Regions from separate parts of the Homo sapiens genome. Here region 1 is reported to be linked to region 2. Evidence: microRNA targets listed by miRTarBase, many of them from high-throughput screens and not tested one by one. Region 2 holds a microRNA gene; the other region holds the end of a gene's coding sequence. Distances are between the middles of the regions.
Evidence for each region. Region 2 holds the annotated microRNA hsa-miR-604 (AGGCUGCGGAAUUCAGGAC, at 2,243-2,261, opposite strand). A microRNA usually pairs through its seed, bases 2 to 8, with sites in the 3' UTR of a target mRNA and lowers its output. Matches are read on the target gene's strand: a 7mer-m8 pairs with bases 2 to 8, a 7mer-A1 pairs with bases 2 to 7 and ends in A, and an 8mer does both.

Region 1 (3,412 bases), 14 Mb from region 2:
TTACAACTTCTTCTCTCCTCTCAACCCTGTGAGAGTCCATATTGAGATTGGCCCAGATGGAAGAGTGACGGGTGAAGCAGATGTTGAGTTTGCTACTCATGAAGAAGCTGTGGCAGCTATGTCCAAAGACAGGGCCAATATGCAGCACAGATATATAGAACTCTTCTTGAATTCAACAACAGGGGCCAGCAATGGGGCGTATAGCAGCCAGGTGATGCAAGGCATGGGGGTGTCTGCTGCCCAGGCCACTTACAGTGGCCTGGAGAGCCAGTCAGTGAGTGGCTGTTACGGGGCCGGCTACAGTGGGCAGAACAGCATGGGTGGCTATGACTAGTTTTGTTAGGAACATTTGAGTTACTTCAATCATTTTCACAGGCAGCCAACAAGCAATTAAGAGCAGTTATAATAGAGGAAGCTGGGGGACCCATTTTGCACCATGAGTTTGTGAAAAATCTGGATTAAAAAATTACCTCTTCAGTGTTTTCTCATGCAAAATTTTCTTCTAGCATGTGATAATGAGTAAACTAAAACTATTTTCAGCTTTTCTCAATTAACATTTTGGTAGTATACTTCAGAGTGATGTTATCTAAGTTTAAGTAGTTTAAGTATGTTAAATGTGGATCTTTTACACCACATCACAGTGAACACACTGGGGAGACGTGCTTTTTTGGAAAACTCAAAGGTGCTAGCTCCCTGATTCAAAGAAATATTTCTCATGTTTGTTCATTCTAGTTTATATTTTCATTTAAAATCCTTTAGGTTAAGTTTAAGCTTTTTAAAAGTTAGTTTTGAGAATTGAGACACAATACTAATACTGTAGGAATTGGTGAGGCCTTGACTTAAAACTTTCTTTGTACTGTGATTTCCTTTTGGGTGTATTTTGCTAAGTGAAACTTGTTAAATTTTTTGTTAACTAAATTTTTTTCTTAAAATAAAGACTTTTTCACAATGACTGGCACAGATTACTCAGCAAAAGATAGCAAAACGGGTGGTTGAAGATAATTCATTTTAATCGTAATGTATTTTAGTGTGAATTTAAAAATTTCATACATCAAATCTATGATCTCCCTTATATTCTTATGATGAGGCTAAATAAAAGTCTAATAAAAATGTTAAATATGTGAATGGTGGAAATGGTGACTAGCAGCACACATTCTGGGAAGCATCAAATAGACACACGGCCCCAGCCACCTGCAACTTATGTGCACTGTTGTAAACCATTCAGAATTTTCCTGCTAGGCCCTTGATGCTGGAGTCACATCTGTTGATAGCTGGAGAACTTTAGTTTCAAGTACTACATTGTGAAAGCAATTATTTTGTTTCTAGTTTTTATAAAATGCTGATTTAAACTTTTTTTTTTGGTCACGCTCCTGATTTCTGTAGGGCGCATTTGTTAATTAGGTTATGACAGGATACACATTATCAAGCTTGAGACCCATTTTCAAATTGCTATCTACCTTGGCAACAGCAATGTTGAAATTCAGGCAGCTCTATATATAGCATACAGTATTACTATCATTTTAAACCTTATGCTAAATACAAACCATCAGGACTTTAAAATGTGGAGTTTATTTAAAACCATTCTGTGCAAAAATGCTATCTACCATTGGGAATTCTTCAACTTTATTTTCCCACTTCACTAGCTGTATAATGTAACCTATATGTTATGATTTTACCAATATTAAGGGTCTTCATTAGTATCTTAAAGAGTAAATAAATGCTCTTGGTAAAACCCCTGAGAGCTGCATTAAAAATTAGGTCTGTGAAGTCTTCAGCCTTTTCTAGCCTCATTGGGCTTCAGAGGCTCACCTTAGGTACAGCCCTTCGTTCCAGTGTTCTGCATGCTTATGTTCTGCATGCTTGGATGGCCTGATGTGAGGGCAGCAGCATCACCAGGAATGGCAGGGTACAGGGACGCAGAAAGAGGCACTCGGAAGACTGGCATGGGGGAAACCTAGGGAGAACTGTCCTTGCTGTAACCCTGATCTGGGATCTCTGCCCACCCATGGGCCTACCATGCTTCAAGTGTCAGCACTGCATGGGGAAGGAGAGGCCTGTAGGTGAGGGAGACCCACAGAAACAGGTGGAGTTTCCGCTGGAAATGGGGCTGGAATGCCATGAAGATGAGACCTCAGATTTCGTAGAGTGGTGGAGATTCAAAGAGTACCTTCACAACCCTGGAAGTCTATGCTAGATTTAGGATGCATGGGTGGAAAGGGCTCCAGGGGATGGGAAAGGGAATGTGTTAGATGACCTGACATCCCAAGGTAACAACATAACATGGACAGCAAAACATCCCCTTGCTCCAGGATTGTTAACTTTTGTTGGGGAGGGACAAGTCTCTCTCTGATGCCCAGGCTGGAGTCTAGTGGCATGATATTGGCTCACTGCAGTGTCAGCCTCCCGTGCTCAAGTTATCCTCCCACCTCAGCCTCTCAAGTAGCTGGGACTGGAGGCGCACACCGCTATGCCCGGCTGATTTCTGTATTTTTTGTAGAGATGGGGTCTCACTATGTTGCCCAGACTGGTCTTGAACTCCTCAGCTCAAGTGATCTGTATTCTTCAGCCTCCCAAAGTTCTAAGATTTCAGGCATGCACCATGGCACCCAGCCATGCCCATTTGTTGCTACACACAGCCGTGCCCATTTGTTAATACTGTCCATGGCTGCCCAGGTACTACAGCAGGCAGAGAGATGGGTAGTTGTATCAGAGACCACATGGCCCACAAAACCTAAAATATTTACTGACACTACAGGAAATGTTTTTCAACCTGTGGCCTTGGGCATGACTAGGGCATTCCCTGCAAGGTAAAAGTCAAGATACTGCATCTTGTTATGTTGTAGAACCCCAAATTCAGGCTTGCGTACCTGATGTGTAGCTGATGCCAAACACCAAGACAAAGGTGCTTGGAGATAAAGGTTTATTTGATTTGGCCAAGGTGAGAAATCTGCCTTAACAAAAAGAAGCAGCGTGGAGTTTTTTTGTTTGTTTTGTTTTTTTAGAGATGGGGGTCTCCCTATATCACCCAGGCTGGAGTGCAGTGACTTTGAGAGAGTCTCAAAGTGCTGGGGTTATAAGCGTGAGCCACCGCGCACAGCCTCAGCATGGAAGTTTTGACCTCCGTTTTCAACCTGGGCCAGTTCACCCCTCCTTAGGCAACGTGGTGGTCCTCCACTCCTGGGAGGTCATAGCGAGGCCGAACTTGCTGCAGATACCCAATCGACATAGTACACTACAGCCTCGGCCTTCCAAAGTGCTGGGATTATAGGCATAAGCCACCATGCCAGGCATGGGGAGTTTTTACACAGCTAGAGACTAAGGGAGGGGCAGTTTCAGAGAACCGAGGGGGGAAAAGTCTGTGTTTCTTTAGTCTCACATAGTGTCTTGAATAACCAGACTTCTGGGTGTCTGC
Region 2 (3,412 bases):
TTTTTGTACCCGTTAGGTGCTGGACATTTGAATATCCTTCCTATGACATAGGGTGCCTGTGAAGTGGCATCTGTGGGACTCCTCATTTGGCTCATGACCTGTTTCTCCTCTTTTCCCTTCCAGTACAATCATCAGCAACCCAGAAGCCAAACTAATAACATCAGGGCTCTGTTTGCCAAGCTGAGCCAAGCTCCAGCTCTGTCTCTGGGAAACTCACGATATGATAATGAGAGCAGACTGGTGCGAGAGTCTAAACACCACAGAAAGTGGAAGTGACTCCAAAAATGGTCCCAGTTTCTATTAGCCCATTTATGCCTAGTGTTCCATTATTGGAATGCTAAGCAAGTGGGAGTTATTTATATTCTACTGCTCAAGGACAGCACCAAGGTCTGATTGCAAAAATTCAAAAAATTGCAACCTCGGGCATACATGGGTTAAGAGAGAGAGAAGTTACCAAAACACAACAAAACAACCTGGAAAGGTCAAGAAAGCAGGGCAGATGGGAAGGTGGACTCTTCTCTGGACACATTTGTCAGTGGCCCTATTAGAAAGAGATATCCAGATGTAATCTGACCACTGCAGGACGCAGGGGGACCATTGCCTACCTATGCTATTGGCAACTCACTTTCATTAATGTCCCCCAAGATTGGACTAATCACTTTGGCAGTCATATAAAGAACTTGCTGTCAACTAAAACCCTTAGGTCTGTTTCCCACGAACTGCTGTTAAATCAGGTTTCCACAATCTTGAACTTGTGCACTGATTTTTTTTCCATCTAAATTCAAGACTTCATTAAATTTCACCTTGTTAGTTTCTAACCATTGTTCCGGGTACACGTGCTCTCTTGCCTACATGATCCTGTTCTCTCGCACTCTCTCCCCCTCCTTCTTACCTCTCTTCCTCCTCCATCTCTCCCCTCTCCCCTGCCTCCTTTAGTCATCAAACTTACAATCCCTCCTCCAGAAATCTGATCTAAATACATGCATTTATATGCATGTATTACATATGGTACTTAAAAAGCCTTGTTCTCATAAACAAACAGACAACTTATTTTATGGAATCTTGGGGTGAGCCAACCCTTCACAGGGCAGAGGTCACCTACAAGGGGAGAGGCTTATAGGGTTATTGGGGACCAGAATGAGGAAGTGGTGACTTTAGGTGTGTGTATCAGAACTGTTTTGATGCAGCAACTGGCTGGCAGAGAATTGTATTACCAGGAAATAATAACTCACTCCAGGTTTTCATAAAGGCCAGGGGTTGCCCTTGGGTTGTATCCCTAAGTATATAATAGTATATAATGATCAGCTTTAACTCCCTACAACTCCCAAGGGTCTACAGACTAAAAAGTGCTTCCTGTTACCAAAGTGAAGTCAAATGCAGCACAGTCAAATTAGTTTCTCCATGTGGGTGTCCAGCTCTAATTATATAACAGCTTCTAATTATAAAACGTTAAGAATGGCTATTAACTTTTGAATCTCATTAAAATTAACGGTTAATTTGCTAAAAGTCGCTTGTTTGGAAAAACTGCTAATGACCGTTCTGCAGATAGGTACAGGTACAAAATCTGCAAGGACACAGGCTCAAGGAAAAATTTTGCATTTAAAATCTCACACACCTTTGAGTTTTTAGCTAGTGTACATAGTAGCTAGGGTTTGGGGAGATATATTTACATTTAGTCCAATGAATAGGAATAGTCTGCCAGGCCCGGTGGCTCACACGTGTAGTCCCAGCACTTTGGGAGGCCAAGACGGGTGGATCGCTTAACACCAGGAGTTCCAGACCAGCCTGGGCAACATTGTGAAACCCCATCTCTTCCAAAAAATTCAAAAATTAGCCAGGCATAGTGGCGTGCATCTGTTAAGTCCCAACTACTCAGAAGGCTGAGGCAGGAGGAACGCTCGAGCCCAGGAAGTCAAGGCTGCAGTGAGATTGTGCTACTGCTGCACTCCAGCCTGGGCAACAGAGTGAGACCTTTTCTAAAAAAAAAAAAAAAAAAAAAAAAAGAATAAGAATTGTCACTTGACAATAAGAACAGGATGAAATGAAAAAAAAGAGGGAATGACTTACCCATCTATTTTAACAGTTGGGATTCTAGAGTATGGCAGGGAGCACAGGTGTTTGGGGGTACAGGGACTGAAAGGTGAAGCCAATTCCATTCCAGTAATAGAATAAGCTGTGAGGAGGACCCAGATGTCTGTTCTTTAGAATGGCCCCCAAGATGTATGTTTCTCCATGATGCACTGTCCTGAATTCCGCAGCCTGTGTCAGAAAACCTGCCTGCTAGTGGACACGAGAGCGTGGAAGGTCAAGCACGATGCTCTCCTGCAGACACCTCTCTCAGTGCATGGAAACAGACCACTGAGCCAAGAGAGCTTGAGGCTCTGGAGACGGTTTTTAGACTAAAATCTCTCATCAGGAGATGAGCAAATGCAATCAGAAATAAACTCCAAGTGCCCAGCACAAGCCCCTTCCTTTCTTAGTGGCTGAGGCTGCACCGTGTCAAGTTGTTACAGAAGCTGCATTCCAGAGGGTGCCCTGGTCTATTTCCTGAGCCGATCGGCGGCTCTCTGGCATCCATGGGGAGCCCTGCCCAAACCATCATCCACCAATGGCAACTCTCCCAGGGGTCCAATGTCAGCCTCAGCTCTGCATGAAACCTCCATATCATGTTCTCACTACTAAGGACACAATTTGCTAAAGAGAAAAGAGTGGTGAGGGGCTGCAGTACAGTAATGACAAACAAAACTAATAAACGAGGGTTTTCTAGAGTGGATCACCACTAGAAAATGAGGTCTACCAGCCGGGCGTGGTGGCTCACGCCTGTAATCCCAGCATTTTAGGACGCCGAGGTGGGCGTATCATGAGGTCAAGGGATCAAGACCATCCTGGCCAACATGGTGAAACTCCGTCTCTACTAAAAATACAAAAATTAGTTGGGTGTGGTGGCGCATGCCTGTAGTCCCAGCTACTTGGGAGGCTGAGGCAGGAGAATCGCTTGAACCCAGGAGGTGGAGGTTGCAGTGAGCCAAGATTGCACCACTGCACTCCAGCTTGGAGTCAGAGTGAGACTCTGTCTCAAAAAAAAAAAAAAAAAAAAAAAAAAGAAAAAGAAAAAAGAAAGAAAGAAAATGAGGTCTACCTTTCATTTCATTCCCTTTGCCAGTCACATAGTTCCCTGAGAACAGAGAGTGATGGCCGGATGCTCAGCAAAGGCAACAGCAGGACTGAAGACAGTGAGTTTCTCCACTCATAAAAGTAAAAAATACAGCACATTTTCTTTATATAGATACGTGAGATGCATAAAGTAACAAATTCAACAAGAGCTTTGGATTCGGAATTTCTAGTAGTAGAAGCTCAAGCTCAGGTGTTTAAAAATCTGAATAATCCATAGGACCTAAATCCCTTTTAATTT

Region 1: the mRNA of HNRNPF is a reported target of hsa-miR-604. Seed matches in the 3' UTR shown: 7mer-A1 at 376-382.

Annotation. Positions count from the first base shown.
Region 1 is chr10:43,383,559-43,386,970 of GRCh38, reverse strand. HNRNPF (heterogeneous nuclear ribonucleoprotein F) reads left to right here. Exons shown (of 4, transcript NM_001098204.2): 4 at 1-1,353. The coding sequence ends at 334. Among named protein-coding and RNA genes, the nearest start is that of FXYD4, 14 kb to the right of the region's middle. RefSeq lists enhancers at 1-244, 1,982-2,061, 2,112-2,191, 2,212-2,361.
Region 2 is chr10:29,542,777-29,546,188 of GRCh38, forward strand. It overlaps MIR604 (microRNA 604), which reads right to left and starts at 2,321; the gene lies at 2,228-2,321. All of the region lies in intron 6 of SVIL (supervillin), which reads right to left.